Linked DNA regions of Homo sapiens. The protein of the gene in region 2 interacts with the protein of the main gene of each other region in a biochemical or structural test. Each region holds a gene or a part of one and is shown on either strand. Other genes may lie near its edges.

Region 1 (4,584 bases), on a different chromosome or scaffold from region 2:
GGGATATTAACAGTCTTTAAATTTTGTTCAAATATGCTAGGTAAAACATTTTTGTTTATTTTTCATTTACCTGATTATTAATAAGGTATAATTTTTTTGGTCTGTTACATTTATATTCTTCTGTTAATTGTGTTCATACCCTTTTCCCATTTTTCTGTGATTATCTTATTTTGAAGACTTTTATTTTTTATTTTCAAAATTTTTTAAATTTAAATTTTATTTTGAAATGGAGTTGTGCTCTTGTTGGCAGGCTGGAGTGCAATGGCGTGATCTTGGCTCACTGCACCCTTCACTCCTGGGTTCAGGTGATTCTCCTGCCTCAGCCTCCCGAGTAGCTGGGACTACAGGTGCCTGCCACGAAGCCTGACTAATTTTTTTAAAAAATATTTTTAGTAGAGACGGGGTTTCCCCATGTTGGCCAGGCTGGTCTCGAACTCCTGACCTCAGGTGATCCCCACCCGTCTCGGCCTCCCAGAGTTCTGGGATTACAGGTGTGAGCCACCATGCCGGCTTTATTTTGAAAACTTTTAAAAGATAAAATTCACATACTATAAAATTCACTATTTTAAAGTATATAATTCAGGGGCTTTAGTATTATTCACAAGTGTGTGCAGCCATCACCACTACTAATTCCAGAACATTTGCATTACCCCAAAAAGACACCCTGTACCCATTAGCAGTCATTCCCCATCCTATTTCCTCCAGCCAGTGACAACCATGATTCTACTTTCTGTCTCTATAGGTTTGCCTTTTGTGGACATTACATATAAATGGAATCATAAGATATATGGCTTTTTTTTTTTTTTTTTTTTTTTGAGGCAAGGGTCTCGCTGTGTCACCCAGGCTGGAGTGCAGTGGCCTGATCTCAACTCACTGCGACCTCAACCTCCTGGGTTCAAGCGACCCTCCTGCCATAGCCTCCTGAGTAGCTGGGATTTCAGGTGTGCACCACCATGCCCAGCTAATTTTTGTATTTTTAGTAGAGATGGGGTTTCGCCATGTTGGCCAGGCTGGTCTCAAACTCCTGACCTCAGATGATCCGCCTACCTCGGCCTCCCACAGTGTTGGGATTACAGGCATGAGCCACCATGCCTAGCTTTGATATGTGACTTTTTATTCTGGTTTGTTTCTTCTTTTCTGCCTTGCTTCCCTGTTCCTCTTCCCCTCCCTCCCCTCCCCCCCTCCCCATCCCCGTCTCCCTCTCCAGGGTTCTCGCTATGTTGCTCAGGCTGGTCTTGAACTCTTGGGCTTAAGTGATTCTCCCTCTTTGGCCTAAAGTTCTGGGATTATAGGTGTGAGCCACTATGCCTGGCCTGGCTTCTTTGTTTTAGCATGTTTTCAAGGTTCATTCATGCTGTAGCATGTATCAGTACTATATTCCTTTTAATGGCTGAATTCTGTTCCATTATATGGGTAGAATATATTTTGTTTTCCATTTATCAGTTGATATTTAGTTTGTCCCCATATTTTGGCTACTATTAATAATGTTGCTGTGAACATTCATGTGTGTTTTTGTATGGACATATGTTTTCAGCTCCCTTGGATATATACCTAGGAGTGGAATTGCTGGGTCTAGTATGCAACTATATGTTTTACTTTTTGAGGAACTGCCAAACTGTTTTCAGCAGTGGCCCTACCATCTTACATTCCTAGCAGCAACATATGAGGGTTTCAGTTTTTCCATATTCTGGTCAACACTTGTAATTATCCGTATTTTTGGTTATAATCCTAGTGGGTGTGAAGTGGTATCTCACTGTGGTTTCAACTTGCTCTTTCCTGATGGCTAATGATGCCAAGCATTTTTTTATGTACTTATTGGCCATTAGTACATCTTCTTTGGAAAAATGAAGTTCTTTAGATCTTTTGCCCATTTTTAAATTGGGTTAGTTGTCTTTTTATTGTTGAGTGGTAATATGTCTTTTATTCTGGGTATTAGACCTTTATCATATATATGATTTGCATGGATTTTCTCCTATCTTTGAGTTGTCTTTTCACTTTCTTGGTTTTATTCTTTGCAGCGTAAAGTTTTTAATTTTGGTAAATTAAGTTCATCTGTTTTTTCTTTTGTTGCTTGTAATTTATCTAAGAAACCATTACCTAATCCAGGGTCACAAAGGTTTACGCTTGTGGTTTAAGAGTTTTAAGGCTGGGCACAATGGCTCACACCTGTAATCTCAGCATTTTGGGAGGCCAAGGTGGGCAGATTGCTTGAGCTCAGGAGCTGGAGACCAGCCTGGGCAACATGGCGAAACCCCATCTCTACAAAAAATATAAAAAATTAGTAGGGCGTGGTGGCACATGCCTGTAGTCCCAGCTACTCAGGAGGCTGAGCAGGGAGAATCACTTGAGCCTGGGAGGTCAAGGCTGCAGTAAGCTGTGATCACGTGACTGTACTCCAGTCTGGGTGACAGAGTGAGACCCTGTCTCAAAAAAAAAAAAAAAAAAGTTTTATGGTTTTATTTATAGTTTTAGCTCTTACATTTAAATCTTTCATCATTTTGAATAATTTTTTATGGGTGTTTGTCCCAGACCATTAGTTGAAAAGACTGTCCTTTTCTCACTGAATTGTTCTGGTATCCTTGTCAAAAAATTGACTATAGATATAAGGGTTTTTTCTTGGCTCTCAATTTTATGCCATTGATCTATCTATATGTCCATATGCCATGGAATGTCTTTTTAAGAATTATTAATTTGTGGGATTTTTAAAAATATTGTCTTCATTTTCCTTGTCTGTTACATGTTATGAATATTTCCTCCAGTATGTCTTAACTTTTGTTTATGGCATCTTTTACTATACAGACGTTTTATGTTTTTATTAAGTCAAATTTATCCACCTCTTTTTTTTATGGTTTCTAGGTTAAAATCATGCTTTGCAATAGGGCATCCCAAGGCCAAAATTAGGGGAAAAAAATTCTCCCTTGAGGGGAAAATATTGAGAATTTTTTTTTTTTTTTTTTTGATGTGGAGCCTTGTCCTGTCATGCAGGCTGGAGTGCAGTGGTACTTCCGGCTCACTGCAACATCCGCCTCCCAGGTTCAAGCACTTCTCCTGCCTCAGCCTCCCGAGTAGTTGGGATTACATGCAACTGTCACCACACCCGGCTAATTTTTTATATTTTTAGTAGAGATAGGGTTTCATCATGTTGGCCAGGCTGGTCTTGAACTCCTGACCTCGTGATCTGCCCGGCTTGACCTCCCAAAGTGTTGGGATTACAGGAGTGAGCCACTGCACCTGGCCAAAAAAATTTTAATGTTAGCTCTTTAATTCATCTGCAAGTGATTTTTTTTTTTTTTTTTTGAGATGGCGTCTCACTCTGTTGCCCAGGCTGGAGTACAGTGGCGAGATCTAGGTTCACTGCAGCCTCCGCGTCCTGGGTTCAAGCGATTCTCCTGCCTCACCCTCCCGAGTAGCTGGGATTACAGGCATGCGCCACCACGCCTGGCTAATTTTTTTGTATTTTTAGTAGAAATGGCGTTCACCATGTTGGTCAGGCTGGTCTCGAACTCCTGAACTCAAATGATCCTCCTGCTTTGGCCTCCCAAAGTGTTGGGATTATAGGCATGAGCCACCATGCCCAGCCTGGAATTGATTTTAATGTATAGCATGAGGTTTGCTGTAGAATTTTATCTGTTTATGAAATGATCTATGTGAAGATAATTTTATTTCTTCATAGTTACAGTCACAAGAAAAATACTGTAAATGTGCAGCTTCTGCAAATACACATTTGTGAATGTGATATGTAGTCATGAAGTTTGGCTTTGAAAGTTTACATTATGCAAGTAACAGTATTTTTTCTGAGGATTGGCTGGCTGATAGTTTGTTTCACAATCTGAGCAGAATAAAATAATTTTTGGTCTCACAAATCAGTTTGACTAACTCAGGTTCTTACTCATTTTACTCATGTGAGAGAAACCAGATTCCATGTGGTGATTTTTTTTTTTTTTTTTTTTTTGAGATGGAGTACTGTTCTGTTTCCCAGGCTGGAGTGCAGTGGCGTGTTCTTGGCTCACTGCAACCTACACCTCCTGGGTTCAAGCAATTCTTCTGCCTCAGCCTCCTGAGTAGCTGGGACTACAGGTGTGTGCCACCATGCCTGGCTAATTTTTGTATTTTTAGTAGAGACGGGGTTTCACTATACTGGCCAGGCTGGTCTTGAACTCCTGACCTTGTGATCCGCCTGCCTTGGTCTCCCAAATTGCTGGGATTACAGGCATGAGCCACTGCGCTCAGCCCCATGTGGTGATTTTTTATGGCAGGAATAAATTTCTCAGTCGCTTATTGTATAAAATTGAATTTTATACAATTAATTATTATCTAATTAACTGCTTTTCTCCTAGGCGACCACCTTCAGTGACACTTCACTTGGGGGGACAGACTTTTTGTTTTGAGTTGCTATTGGGATAAATAAAAGATGCGATAGTTCATCTTTTATTTTGACAATAGAATGGCAAATGAAGGAATGCATTTACTTAGACTTTTACTTATACTGATAATTTTAACACTCAAGACTGATTAACTTTGTTTTACTCGGTTTCTTTTGTAATGGGTATACAGTAACTTTGAGGATGATTACACTGTTTTAAG
Region 2 (6,017 bases):
ACCGAGGGCTTGGAACCCAGAGCTCCCCAGACTTGAAAATCCTGGAAATGGAAGCCAGGATGAGTGCTGGGTGGAGAAACAGGACACCTTGTGCATTGCTGGTGGGAATGTGAAACGGTACAGCTGCTGTGGGGAACAGAATGATGGGACCCCAAAGGGTTAATCTTAAAATTGCTGTAGGATCCGGCAGTTCCCTTGTGGGTACACTCCCGGAAGAACTGAAAGCAGGGATTTGAACAGATCTTTTGCACACCAATGTTCACAGCAGCATTTGCACAACAGCCAAAAGGTGGAAGCAACTCAAATGTCCATCAACAGATAAATGGATCAGCCAAATGTGATCTCTCCATACAATGGAATATTATTCAGCCATGAAAAGGAATGGAATTCTGATGTATGCCATAACATGAATGAACCCTAAAGACATTATGCTAAGTGAGATAGACCAGACACAAAAGGACAAATATATGATTCTACTTACATGAAATATCTAGGATAGGCAGATTCATGGAGACAGAGTAGAAGGGTGGTTGCTAGGCACCGGGTGGAGGGAGAAATGGGGAGTTGTTAATGGGGACAGAACTTGTGTTTGGGATGATGAAAAAATTCTGGAAATGGTGGTGACACCTATACAATAATGTGAACGTATTTAACGTTGCTAGTAGTCCACTTAAAATGGTAATTTTATATTATGTATATTTTACCATAATTTAAGACAAAAAGAGTGTCAGAAGGCTGGGAAACCCCAGTCCCAGCAGGATGTGGCGTTTCTTAGGCTTGCTGAGGTGGAGCTGCTGCAGGCACAGCGCCTGGACGGGGCTGTGGCGCACGTAGCTCAAGTGCGCAGTGGCAAGGGCCCTGGCAATGGGCCAGCAAGCCACGAGGCTCCGGGTGCTGATGGTGTCTGGTGAGACGGCAGGGCCTGGGTGCGGAGGATCCGGGATGCATATTGGAAAGCTTCCAGGACAGCAGGTGACAGCCACACCTTAGGTGTCAGGGACAGAGATTGGGAGCAGATGGGGCTGAAATGGCTTGGAAGAGGCAGCAGGAAGCTGGGAGACTCTTAGCCCCACTCAACTGCATGGGAATTGGTAGTAATGTGATCTCAAGGCCCCCCACCTCTCTCTGCAAATGTTCAATGCAGTGGTGGCTTCTACACATTTCCAGAGCCATTAAATAATCTCGGCCCGGCGCAGTGGCTCATGCCTGTAATCCCAGCACTTTGGGAGGCCGAGGCAGGTGGATCATCTGAGGTCAGGAGTTCGAGACCAGCCTGACCAAAAAATGGAGAAACCCCATCTCTACTAAAAATACAAAATTAGCCGGGCGTGGTGGTGCATGCCTGTAATCCCAGCTACTCGGGAGGCTGAGGCAAGAGAATCACTTGAACCTGGGAGGCGGAGTTTGCAGTGAGCCAGGATCGTGCCATTGCCCTCCAGCCTGGGCAACAAGAGCAAAACTCCATCTAAATAAACAAACAAACCCCAAATATGTTACTTGTAACAATAACCTCTTCGCTTTTATGACAGGTCTGGTTCCAGGATAAATAAGCATGCCAGGCAGGTGTACAGTGATTTCAAACAGTTTAATGTAATTCCAAGACAAAGTGTGATTACATTTCTACACATATACAATATGCATATGTGAGTTTACAAATTTTAATTAATAAGTCATTTCACCTCGGAGACCGAAAAAATGATCAAAAAGAAACTATGAGTAACAAGCTATAACATAGTTCACCACAATGGGACCCCCCCCCCTTTTTCTCACCCTACAGTTAGTAATATTACAATTAAAATAACTATATTCTTCTATATTTTTTCTGTTAAAATCATCTCATAAATTTACAATGCTATTATTAGTTTCCAAGACTAATATAAATTCACTCCATTTTTCTACAACGAAAATGATTAATTTAGAAGCACACGACGTCATGATGAAAAACACAAGCATTTTAGTAGCAAGGACTTGATCAGTTAAGAATTAGTTTTCTTGTAAAACATTCTAAAGCCAAGTAAAATATCCATTCTTATAACATACCTATAATATGAGACTAAGGAATAGGTTACATATAGGTCTACAACACATTGGTTTGTCTTTAAAAAAACAAAAGTAGACATTTATAAATAAAAAAGAGGGACAATTCACATAGGAAAAAGAGGTACACGAGAAAATACTGTTGCACGCAATAATTTTCACACAGATTAACATGGATTAACACTTTTTATTACAGAAACCGTACGGTGAAGGAACACAACAGACCAGGGCTTTCATAGGGTTATTGAGATTGAGCTGAGATGACCTGGGAGAGAAAGATCTAGGTGAGATGACCCTGGGGAGGGAGCCACGTTCCTTGGACCTGGTGACTTAGTGTCGCCGGGTCTCCTCTTCCCTGTTCTCATTTTGGGGAGTGAGTCTTTCTATCCAGTGTCCTGAATTCATGAGCAGTTGAAAGGTAAACATTTCTGCAGATCCATTCTCTTTCTATCCTAATGGATACCATTTTTGGAAACGTGACAGAGTATCAGAGGCTGCAGCTCAGTACACGTGGTCAAAGCAAAACGGGATGGAAACTTCCAGTCACTCTGATTTGTTGCCCCCGTCACCCACTGATGCGCTTGAAGCTGGGACCCAGTGAGACAGCAGCAGCACCCTACAGGGCCTGCTGGCTCTGCCGTGGTGAGGTGGATGACAAGGGCCCGGCGCCACGCCTCAGCCCCATGTGTGCGGAGTGGCCTGGGACACAGCCCATGCACGTCCAAGACACCAGTCTTGACTCCGACCTCTAAAGAGCTCCTTCTCCTCATCTGTAAAGCTATACTTCTCCTATCCAATTTGGTTTGATATATATACACAAACATATATATCAACATCTATCTCTATACAGTGATTCTACTAAATTAGAAATTCTGCTGCCCCAAAGTATGACTTTCTTGTCTATTTCATTTGGTTAAAAAAATGCACACACAGAGGATGAAGAGATGATTTGGGGGCTAGAGATGACTGTGCCCTGGAAAGTCCATGGAAGAAGCTTGAAGTGAGCAGGAACACAAAAGGGAGGAGAGCAGAAACGGGGGACCGACTGACTCAGGGCAGCGCTGACGGGAACATCTGCTTGGGGTGGGGCGGGGCGGGGGTGTGCTCTCTGTTCCATTTGTTAGTTACAGGAAGCTACCAAGGATGCACATGGTCAAGTCACTTTCTACTTCCCAAGTTCCTCCTTATAACCTGAGCCAAACAATTTCAACAATGACAATCCATTGCCCCTTCAGCCCAGCAGGCGACTCTGACAGGGAGGTGTGACCACCAGTCTCAAGGCTGAGTGGGGCCTTCTTGCTGGCTCTCGCGCTTTCTGGGAGTCCTGGGTGCCTTGGCCCAGGGCAGTGGTGACAGCAGGGTGGAGGCAGAGGTGGCCCCGGGGACAGTGACCCTATATAAGGAAGGGGGCGGTGCCAGGAGAGATTCGTTTGGAGATTGGTTACAAGGAAGCGAGGGAGAGCAGAGGCAGAGCCCTTTTTCAGATACAACATACTTACTTTTCAAATGAACAAAAGGCAATTTCTATGTTTTAAAAATATAAGCCCCAAAAACAATGACACAAAATTCATTTGGTTAATTCATGTAAAGGAAAAAACAGCAACACCACCACACAAACAGGAAAGTGGGAGTATGATTAGGAGGGGTGAGATGAAAACTATTTTACAGTAACATTTCCACCAAAAGACTGTCCTAAGAACACGCTGTCAATACAGTTCACAGGGAAAAAGCAAATGTGGTATTTTTTTGTATTTTTTAAAAGCTCCCTGGTCCCAGGTGTTTTGCAGTTTTCAAGGTCTTATCTGCTAAAGGAATGCCCTTTAGGTCACAGCAGGTCCTCTGCAGTTTGGTGGTGGCACAAGAGAAAACATAAAAGAAACCAAGACTCAGGGAAACTGCCATTCCCCCAGTCTGTTTCTGCATGACAGTGGGGCCCATTCCTGTCTCGAAGCATCTTCTTGTTCCAAATATGATGTCTGTTTAGAGTGGGTCTCAATGGACCAGGCTGAGCTGCCCCTCTGTCTCTGCCTCCTCCTGCTCAGCCCTGACCATCTCTGAGAGGATGCTAAGGTCCCCCTCCCACCGAACTAGACTTTGAGTCTAAGCTGGACAATGAGTAAAACGTAAACATAGCCTTTTACATTGATTTTGCTTTTAAGGGGAAAACGAATAAATGACAGCAGATATATGGAAAACCCAGCCAGCGACCATGGGAATAGGGGTATATGGTCCTCCCCTACAAAACGCTGATCAAAATATCACCCCCGGCCCAGAAGTAGCAGCTGTGCCTTCATGGTCACCTGAATCCCAGTCTCTTCTACTGCCTGGTGCCTGGAAATCAGTGGATCTATTAATAAGTTAAATATTCAAATCAAGACAAAAATCAATGAACCAGGTTATCTGTTCTCAATGACTCTTCCAAGATGTCAGAGAGAAGGCCTTGAAGACAAGTGTTTAGACGACACGCATGAGACCTTCGCATCTGGCCCGGGCTGCGGACTCACACCTTTTCCCTCCATCTGGATTGCCTTTCATGTTCTCTTGAGTTCACGTGGAAAGTAATAATCCAGAGGGAAGTGCGCATGCTGGACTACAGAAGAGTCTGGGACAACACACTTGCCTTGGGGGAGACACAACCTCCAACTAAGAGGCATTCACTGGGGTTTGCGGATGTCAGTTATAAACAGAACTTTTCTTTAAAAAGTACCAGTCTAAATGTAAACTATAAAACACTTTAACTATAAAACGTAGCCAGAAATATGCTTAAGTATCCACAGTCAATTGTTTAGTTTACTCATTTAAAATGTGACTGTTTTGATAGCTTAGAAGGCTAACAGCATTTTACAGTAGCTAAAAACATATATACTTAACATGTGCATTTGAACATCGCATTTGAGTACAACACACAAAGAATAATCTCTTCCTTGGTTTAATTTTTGTTGTAAAGATGAGCTATTTTCAGAATTCACTTAAGCAACGATGACCGGGGGTATGAAGTAATCATTATTTTCAGCCCACAGAGAATTCATAGTCTTTAAATTCCAAGATCAAGCTGGCTACATGATTTCAAAAAAGGCTAAAACCAGGATGAATGCCCACATTTGAGGTAATTATTGCCATTAGGTCACAGTTTGTGTAAGATAATGTATCTAAAACCTTCTAAAAAAAAAAAAAATCTTTAGGTGTTCTGCCAGAATTCCAGAATACCTATTGAAACCAACCAGGATCTCAAACTCCGATTAGTTAGGTTTGCTTCCAATGGAGTTAAAGTTCTAAAAGATTCTAGAACTTGTGTAAACTACCTAAGAATTTAGGCAAACAAGCCTGGAGCCAGTCAACAAAGAAGGTTTTAAATGAAAAAAGGAACAAGAAACCCACTCAAAACAACTGAACAAATATTTCATAATAAATGATAATAGTTATTTTAAAAAATTAAAAATCTAGTCCTAAGCATTTCTACATTCTCACCATCTTTCAATCAAAATAAAAATGCATCTGTATTTCTGTTAATCTCATACCAGGGCAAGAGACACGCCTTCCTTTTATCATGAAAGCTGGCTGGTTTTCCTGTTTATACAATTGTTGCTATTTCTTTGAGAAGAGTATCTCAAAAGAAAACATTCTTTTGTTCCTCTAAGTCTTGTCTTTCTTCCACCTCTACTTCTTTTTTTTTTTCTTTTTTTTTTCTTTTTTTTAACAGAAAGAAAAAAGTTCCTGGACACCAGACCCACATATGGTATTTACAAATTTGGTGTGAACCCTGCCTCTGGTTCTGCCCAGAGCTGAAGAGTGAATCTATTACAGAGATCAGAGCTGTCAGGATAATTATCAAGTGCAGTAAAAAATAGCATTTTGAAAAAAATATATACCTTTAGTATTGCCTTTCTAGAATTAACTATAAGCAAGAAAAACTTATTTTTTAAAGAAGAAAAGAATACTTTTTCACTCTTACTTATAAGAGCTGGTTGTAGCAGCACTAC
Region 3 (4,584 bases), on a different chromosome or scaffold from region 2:
TTAGATTCTCTTAAGGAGTGCCCAGCCTAAAGCCCTCGCATGTGCAGTTCACAATAGGGTTCTTGCTCCTATGAGAATCTAATGCCACTGCTGATCTTCCAGGAGGCAGAGCTCAGGTGGTAATGGTCTCTCCCCTGCTGCTCACCTTCTGCTGTGTGTCCTGGTTCCTAACAGGCCGTGGACCGGTATCAGTCTGTGGCCTCTGAGACTCCTGCTTTAAGTCATCTCTATATTATGCATAATATGTAATACATTGTAAATGCTGTGTAAATAGTTGTTATACCATATTGTTTTTAAATTTTGTATTTTTCAATTGTTGTATTTTTTAGTTTTAAAAATTTACTTATTTTTTCTACTTTTTGATCCACGGTTGGTTGAATCCAAGGATGTGGAACCCTTGGATACAGAGGGCTCTATGTTTTATTATAAATTGGCTTATTTTAAAAAATATTTTTTATTATGTAAACAGGCAATGATTTTACTAGCTAGAAGCAAATTTAATGTTTTAAAATAAACCTTCCAATTTTGTTAGGCATGATAATGATGGAACTGAGGCTTAAATATACCCTATGGCAGCAGTTGGAAAGTGGCCGAATTAGGGTTGGGGTCTAGATCTGTCTGCCTCTAGATTGATTGCAAGTTCTTAACAATTACTGTTTATTCTTCTCTGATTCCTTTCAAGGATTAAATAAAGTACAATGTAAACTTCATGCTCTATTTTAGATTCTGGTTCTCATGTGAGTCCCAGAATAACTTGAGTGAAATGTTCTGATACAGAGCAGAATAGCCTCTTGTGCTACACTTTTGTTAATTATTTTCAAAGAATAGTCTCCTGTATACCATTTCTTTAATAGACTCAGAAGTCTGTAGAATTGAGGTGATTCTGTTGTGATTTAAACTACATCATGCTATATGTTTCCAATAGATATTTGAAAATATCTTTTAAATAAACCATTAATGTCATGGTTTTTAAATCAGTATATCTTTGGAAAAAAGGGAAAGGTCTAAGCCTTAATTTACCTGGCTTTTTCTGGCTTTTATAGTCTGGTAAATTTTGCAGCCTGAAAAAGCAAGAGAATCTATAAAATACTTGAATGAGATGCTGGAAAATTTCAGAACAGGTTTTGTTTTGAACTGTCGGGTCACTGTAGCCCCCAAAGCAGGGCATGATGTGTTCCTGCAGCCTGATAGCTATGTGACAGCACCTGTAGTACTAAAGCCAAGGATGCCAGGTGGTTCTGTTGCCTGGCCACAGGAAGCCAGCGCTTCTCACCATTGCCCTTTGAACTGTTGATCCAGTTAAGCTCACTAACAATGTGTAAATATGAAATTTAATCAATTGCTTGATTCATTTTCAAAAGATGTTTTGAAATACTCCTTTATCCGCATTGAAGTTTTGATGATTTTGTAATATGTAAGAAATGGACTTTTCAGAAAAGTACAACTTAGTACTTGAGACATTGGCTGTCAAAGTTCCATTCCAAAACTTCCTTTTAAGCTCTCTTTCCCTTCTCTCACTGACCAGAAGTTACTATGAAATGAAATAAAGGTAGGGAAAAAGGGAGAATTATCTCTGAGCTGCCCATATTCTGGAGAGAAATGTGGGAGAAAATTTTTAAGGTGGTATACTAAATTAGAATGACTTCAAAGTCTATTTCTTTATTTATTCTAGAGATGAGAACAAAATAATTTTCAGTAAAACTTAAAAATATCATGACCAGATAACCTGAAAATCTTAACTGTGGATGCATGTCTATTTTTATTGGGATTTTTTTCTATATTAAAAATCAGTTGACATCTGTTTTTAGATAATTTTTTAAAAAACTGGATTATAAAATGAAGCACTTAGTAAAGCTGATGGCAGAGGTTTTAGATCTTTTGAATACAGGAAAGTGGTAAGGGCATTATAGGTATGATTCATTGAGCTAGAGGGCGTTGGTGTTCACATTTTAAAAACATAATCATGACTTATCTGGAGTCACATGTTCCATTTTATTGGCTTCCTTCATATAGAAAATATAGTAACCAGCACTACATGCCTGTGAAAAAGTGAAGCAATTGTATATTTTCTGGGTGAAGGAAGTATTCTGTACATTCTCCATGTTTTACATCATGGTATTTTGAATAACCATGCTTCCATGTTCACATCAATTTTTTGTTTTTCAATTTATGCACAGCACTTGCTCTGAAATTTGGGGACTGAGTACACCAAATACGATAGATCAGTGGGATACAACAGGCCTTTACAGCTTCTCTGAACAAACCAGGTGAATATTCTGCCCTCTGTCGAATCTTAGAGATCTTGTGGGAGGGGGGTATATTTTGAAAGACCTATATGGGGTTGCTTAGTATAATTTTGCCTAGGATGTTTCCTTAATGTAAAATAAGGCATAGCATTTAAAATATCTGCTTGCCAGTATAAAAAATATATTAAATGTTTCAGCTGATGTTTTAATCAATGCAATTCTAGTTTGAATCTTCTTTAAATTACTGTATCCCCTAAAGAATAATAATTTTGATAACTATATATTTATTTTAGCTTGAGATCAGATTATAATCTGTTGTTGGCCTAATTTTTAAGTAGATACATGATGAGTTTTGCTAAATTTCTTGTTATCAGAATCTCATCTTTATACTAATAAATACATACTTAATGAACCCCTTATATCACAATTAACAGTAGGTTAACTCATTTTTATGTTACTTTTTTTAATCACTTCATTTTCTTTTTTGCGTATATGGTATTTGTTCATTTCATCTCATCATATTCATCACCATCCACATTTATTTGTGAACTACATAAATATACCTCAGTTCTCAAAACAGTCACAACTGGGTAAAGAGTTGCAGTAGTCTGAGGAAGTTACTATCACATCATTGTTGGTATTTATCATTCTTCACACTAGTTCCTTTTCTGACTCTTCAGTCACCTCCAGAATTAATATCCTTAGAAGCATCTCTAAAATGAGTTTGATTTACTAAACATAGAAGTTGACAAAGTTTTTCAAGTATAACTGCATAAACTCTCTTTTTTAAAAAATCAGTTTTTCCCAAGTTGTTAGCCTTTCATTGGCATTTGAGTCATTTATGTGACATATTTATAAGAAACATCTGCTAGTGCTGCTGCATACTTTTATCAGATCCATTAAATAGTACATTTTTGTTCTTGATTCTCACTAAAACTAACTAAATGGCTGTCATTCTTTTCTTTATGCTTTTATTGTACTAATTTAGCCCATTTGACTGCACTTTTTTTTTTTTTTTTTTAAAGTTCCCTCCTTTCTTTTCCCCTTGCTTCCCAACAGGTCTCTTGATGGTCGTCTCCAGGTATCCCATCGAAAAGGATTGCCACATGTTATATATTGCCGATTATGGCGCTGGCCTGATCTTCACAGTCATCATGAACTCAAGGCAATTGAAAACTGCGAATATGCTTTTAATCTTAAAAAGGATGAAGTATGTGTAAACCCTTACCACTATCAGAGAGTTGAGACACCAGGTAGGAATATTGCAAGTTTTTTTCTTGGTTTTGAATTAAATGCCTGAACTTCAGTATATTTAAGTACTCTTGTGACCCAGGAAAATTTTAGTGTAAATTCTAATAAATTACCTTAAATTGTGCATATTATTTGGTGGTAATTAAAATTTTTTTATTTTTAAAAATTTTTAATGAGAAAACATATCTGTTTCTTGGAATAGCATATGATTTGGCATGAAAGTGCATATCCAGGAAATCCTGTAGATTGGCAGTCTGCTCAGCGCTATGCTGATGTGCTTCTACATGTCCCTGCTGCAGTAACATTTTCAAGCATTTTGCACTTGGAGTGCTTTTAGAAGTACTTTAATGACATCATTTGTATGTACACCGTTTAGTAAAGCTTGTAACAAGACTTTTCATTTAGTTAGCTGTCTACCTGAAACTATTAAAAAATATAGCAGTAGCTGCGTTTTTGGAAAATTTCCTATATCTGATTTTACAGATAAAGACAATGTTAAGTTTTCCAATGGGGATTTATGAACTTTTATGGTAATATAATATTACCAGGATCACATTGTTCCCAAAAGTTTGAGATAAATTAGAACTTGGAAATTTGGATAATAGACTACCTAAGTTAGAGCCATAATCAGATTTGTCATTTTCTCAGTAACTAGTATATATCGAGTAGGTGGACCCTAGCTTTAAAAATTAAGCTACAACTTCTCTTCTTGTTGAAAACTTTAAAAAAGGTTCCCCCACTCCCCTTTGCTCTTTGCCATTAACTTGGATTTCTTGAACTTTTTCAGTTTTGCCTCCAGTATTAGTGCCCCGACACACCGAGATCCTAACAGAACTTCCGCCTCTGGATGACTATACTCACTCCATTCCAGAAAACACTAACTTCCCAGCAGGAATTGAGCCACAGAGTAATTATATTCCAGGTATTTTTGCCTTCTGAATCTCCTAAAACTTGGATAGATACAAATTTTGTTCATAAGCATTCAAGTTTTAGTAAATTGTGGTTTCACTTTTTTAAAAATGCTTTTGAGTTTTTAATAGAAAAATTGGATTCGTTGGGTGATTATTTTGTGAAATGTATAAGCCTA
Region 4 (4,584 bases), on a different chromosome or scaffold from region 2:
GGTGGATCACTTGAGGTCAGGAGTTGGAGACCAGCCTGGCCAACATGGTGAAACTGTTTCTACTAAAAATACAAAAATTATCCAGGCATGGTGGTGGGCACCTGTAATCCCAGCTACTAGGGAGGCTGAGGCAAGAGAATTGCTTGAACGCAGGAGTTAGAGGGTATAGTGAGATGAGATCAGGCCAACTGCACTCCAGCCCGGGCGACAGAGCGAGACTCCGTCTCAAAAAAAAACAAAAAACAAAAAACAAATTGGGGGGAGAAAAAAAGCTACAGAATATACAGATTACAATTTCATTTAGGTTAAAAGAAAAAAATAGGTAAGTATAATAGATATGCACATTGATGTATATATTTTCATGTATGTATGCATGTATGTAGCATGTAATGAAACAGAAAAGAAACTGGAAGGACATCCAAACTGCAGAATGTAGTTTAATGGTTTAAGATGCAGGATCAGACAAAGGGAGAGCAAGCCTGGAATTAGAAACCAGAGAGAGATGGGACCACTGAACTACAGGCACACAAAGCATCAAGAACTCCAAGAAACAGAGACTGTCGGCACAAATTCCATCGTTTGAAATTACAGTACACAGTTCAAACATATATAGTTCTTAGAGATGATAATCATGAGAACTACAAGAATTTAGGTCAGATCAAAGAAACTAACTTTAAAATATCTTTGGCTGAGTAAAACAAAAAAATGTGAAGCACACCCAGACTACACCAAAATGTCTATGATGGTTACTTTTTAGTAATCAGATTATAAATAATAGTTTGGGGGTGAGGAGGGATTTCGGTATCTCTCCAATGTTTCATAAAATTATTGGCAACAAAAAATATTACACTTAAAAATTTTAATGCACATTTTATCATATCTCCACATTTTCTGTTAATGAATTGCTAGTAACTTCTACAGAACATCAAATACAGAATTCAAGAGCTGATTTTCTCCTTGCTTTCACTTTTTTTCTCAAAATTCCTCAAATAGATGGATACTTACAGGAAACTTAAAACCAGCCTATTCACAAAAAACTACATATTTTGTAGACATTTTATTTTATACTATAAAAAAAAATCTTATTTATTTTTTCTTGAGACAGAGTCTCGCTCTGTCGCCCAGGCTGGAGTGCAGTGGTGCAATCTCAGCTCACTGCAACCTCCACCTCCCAGGTTCAAGCAATTCTCCCGTCTCAGCCTCCCAAGTAGCTGGGATTACTGGCGCCCGGCACTACACCCGGCTGAAAATATCTTAAACATTTTAAAAGTTAACAAAATTTATGATAGCCCCCCTCCCCTCACAAACTCAAAAGAATACAGTCTGCAAAAATTAACTAACGTCTGTATAGACAAGATATCCGAAGTTGTTCTAATAAAGCTAAATCAGGGCCCTTGACAAGTTTTTAGAAGTAAAGCTACCTTACCCAACAAGCCTGAGTTCTGGCCAAATTCAAAAGGGCAAAATTTAATGTGAAATACAAAGGAAGGAAACCAGGAAGAAGTTTTTAACAGGGAGAGGATTACTTCATTTTGTCAAATAAATTATTGAAGTAATCTTTCCAAGGTAGAGTCTTTGCAGAGAAGCTAGTATACACTTATATTTACTGTATCAACCATCACTAGACCAAGGTGGTCGATGTGACACTAATAAATAACTATACCAAGTACGCTGAAATATTTTCTACAAAATTCAAGACTGGCATTAAACTCCTTAAGAAAATATTTCTCACTGGCAAGATCTGTTTTATAAATATAATTAGTTCTCCAAAGGTTTTTCTCTTTCTAGTTTATTCCATGTGCCCGGACTCCCTGTTCAAAACAAAAACGAATAAGCAAAAAAAACCAAAAACAAAACAAAACAAAAAAAACAAGTCAGTTCAAACATGACTGGGCAACCACAAACCTAATGGAAGGTTTCTGCCAGCTTTATTCTGGTCATATCTTGTCTGTAACATTAAACCTAAAGTTCTGGAAGACTTTTTTTTTTTTTTTTTTTGAGACAGAGTCTTGTTCTGTTGCCCAGGCTGGGTGCAGTGGCACCATCTCGGCTCACTGCAACCTACACCTCCCGGGTTAAGTGATTCTCCTGCCTCAGCCTCCGAGTAGCTGGAATTACAGGGGGATGACACCATGCCCAGCTAATTTTTTTATTTTTAGTAGAGACAAGGACAGGGCTTCACCATGTTGGCCAGGCTAGTCTTGAACTCCTGACCTCAAGTGATCCACCAGCCTCGGCCTCCCCAAAGTGCTGGGATTACAGGCGTGAGCCGCCACGCTGAGCCTCCTGAAGATTTAAGGAAAAAAAAAATCGTTCTAGAAATACTGGTCAGAAAGTATTTGAGATGGTCAGGGAAAAGAATAAGACTTAAAAAACAAAAGAAGGGCCAGGTGTGGCAGCTCACACCTGTAATCCCAACAATCTGGGAGGCCGAGGCGGCAGGATTGCTAAAGCCTTTGAGTTTGAGACCAGCCTGGACAACATAGTGAGATCTCGTCTCTAATAAAAATAAAAATTATAATAAAATAAAATAAGAAGTACTGGGACACATGGCTATTCAGCTGGTAACTTTGTCATGGATAAGCAAATAATACTCCTTAATCACACAAAAAAACATAATGTTGAGTGAAAGAAGCCAAACAGAAATGAAAGAGTACAGGCCGGGCGCAGTGGCTCACGCCTGTAATCCTAGCACTTTGGGAGGCCAAGGCAGGCAGATCACCTGAGGTTGGGAGTTCAAGACCAGCCTGACCAACATGGAGAAACCCCATCTCTACTAAAAACACAAAAAATTAGCCAAGTGTGGTGGTGCATGCCTGTAATCCCAGCTACTCGAGAGGCTGAGGCAGGAGAATCGCTTGAACCCGGGAGGTGGAGGTTGCCGTGAGCCAAGACTGTGCCATTGCACTCCAGCCTGGGCAACAAGAGTGAAACTTTGTCACAAAACAACAACAACAACAACAAAAGAATGAAAGAGTACAAACTCTACTGTTCCATTCATATAAGGCACAAAATTAGGCAAAATAAATCTATGGTGTAAAAAGTCAAGAGGTGGTTTCCTGTGAAGGGGGCGGCTCCTTGTTTCTTCGATCTGGGAGGTGGTTACAATAGCGTTCCTTTTGTGAAAATGTCAAGCTGTACACATGATTTGAGCACTTTTTCCATATGTATTTAGGCTAAATGTCAACAAAATAGTTTACATTTAGAAAATAAAAGTCCTAATATTGCTCTAGGTATTCTCCTAGAATCTCCTTGAACAACAGCCAGATGCTAATATCAGCTAACACTTCACAGCATCTCTCCTCTCTTTCCCTCTGCACAGTTCTTCAACCTGTCTCTCTCTACTACCCATTTGCTCCAGCAACACTCCTCAGGTCCTAGAGCAGTCCAAATTCATCCCTACTTCATGGGGCCTTTATCTGGCTGCATCTTCCATCTAAGATGTACTCCTTCCCCCTTCAAAGGGCGAGCTCCTTATCCTTGGACACCAGGTCTCCCTTCCACCCCACTGGTCTCTTCAGCACTTTGACTCCTTTACAGTACACTTCACAATTTGTAATTCTGTTTCTTTCTTTCCTCACTAGAAGGTAAGTGGTAATATTTAGAGAAGTAACTTACTCAACAACTAATCTTTTTACAACACTTGCTGTGTTAGGCAATGTGCTTTTAGATGCAAAGTAGGCAGTGTCTCTGCTCTCATGGAACTTAAAGTCACAAACACAACTAATAAGTGATAGAGCCAAGAGACACATCCAGATCTGACTCTTAAGGGCTTGTCCTCTTAGCCACTTAATTATACTGACACTCTAGCATTAGGACATGGGGGCTGGGGGGGCGAGGGGAAGGCAGGGAACAGCAATATACTTAATAACTGTTCATGTACTAATAGAACTAAGGCTTAGAGAGGTTCAGTAATCTACCCAAAGTAGCACAAATAGACATTTCAGAGGCTAAATACAATCATGACCAAAGGCACAGAGATGCTAAAGCAGTGTTCAAGGAACAAAAGAACCCAGTTGGCCTAGGTAGGGCAAAGGGGAAACACAGGCAATAAGGCTAGAGAAGTTTGTAAGAAACACTATGCCTTGGTAAAAACAAAACACAACGAAAAGGCTAGAAGAGTTTAATAAGGACAGTGTGGAGTCAGTCGCTCAATAACTTTTTACTGAGCACCACCTATGTTCCAGAAAGAGTCCTAAACTCTTGAGACACAAGGATGACCAAGTCGTCATAGAGATTACAGTCTATCTGGGGAGGCATACAACTAAAGAAAAATTATAATTCAGGAGGATATGTTACAGTGGGACCGAGCAGAGTGCTATGGGAACACAGAGATGACATCCAATTCAATGTGCAGAGTTCACAAAGAGCTTCTCAGCTAGTGATGTCCAGGCTGAGATAAGAGAGCTTAATAGGATGAGAGGGGCTTGCAAGTAAAGTCCAAAATGGCAGGGGAGTAACAAGAGAGGCCAGCTCAGGAGAGGCTATGTACTTACGAACCATATCAAGAACTTAGAACTTTACACTGAAAGCCTTTTAAGTCAGGTTCACCTATTAGAAAGCTCACTTAAACTGCAGTAGGAA

What was found. Proteins that work in one complex are often made in the same cells at the same time.
Region 1: the proteins of HIPK2 (region 2) and SUMO1 form a complex in vitro, tested with the Homo sapiens proteins (one study listed by BioGRID).
Region 3: the proteins of HIPK2 (region 2) and SMAD2 form a complex in vitro, tested with the Homo sapiens proteins (one study listed by BioGRID).
Region 4: of the proteins of HIPK2 (region 2) and SIAH1, one has a biochemical effect on the other in vitro, tested with the Homo sapiens proteins (4 studies listed by BioGRID, with this or other methods).

What each region holds. Positions count from the first base shown.
Region 1 is NC_000002.12:202,214,596-202,219,179, reverse strand, and holds part of SUMO1 (small ubiquitin-related modifier 1 isoform a precursor), read left to right. Parts: intron 1-4,584. UniProt on the Homo sapiens protein: Ubiquitin-like protein that can be covalently attached to proteins as a monomer or a lysine-linked polymer.
Region 2 is NC_000007.14:139,560,004-139,566,020, forward strand, and holds the end of HIPK2 (homeodomain-interacting protein kinase 2), read right to left. Parts: 3' UTR 1,567-6,017; downstream 1-1,566.
Region 3 is NC_000018.10:47,868,158-47,872,741, reverse strand, and holds part of SMAD2 (mothers against decapentaplegic homolog 2), read left to right. Parts: intron 1-2,177; coding exon 2,178-2,267; intron 2,268-3,305; coding exon 3,306-3,499; intron 3,500-4,284; coding exon 4,285-4,419; intron 4,420-4,584. UniProt on the Homo sapiens protein: Receptor-regulated SMAD (R-SMAD) that is an intracellular signal transducer and transcriptional modulator activated by TGF-beta (transforming growth factor) and activin type 1 receptor kinases.
Region 4 is NC_000016.10:48,375,412-48,379,995, forward strand, and holds part of SIAH1 (E3 ubiquitin-protein ligase SIAH1), read right to left. Parts: intron 1-4,584. UniProt on the Homo sapiens protein: E3 ubiquitin-protein ligase that mediates ubiquitination and subsequent proteasomal degradation of target proteins.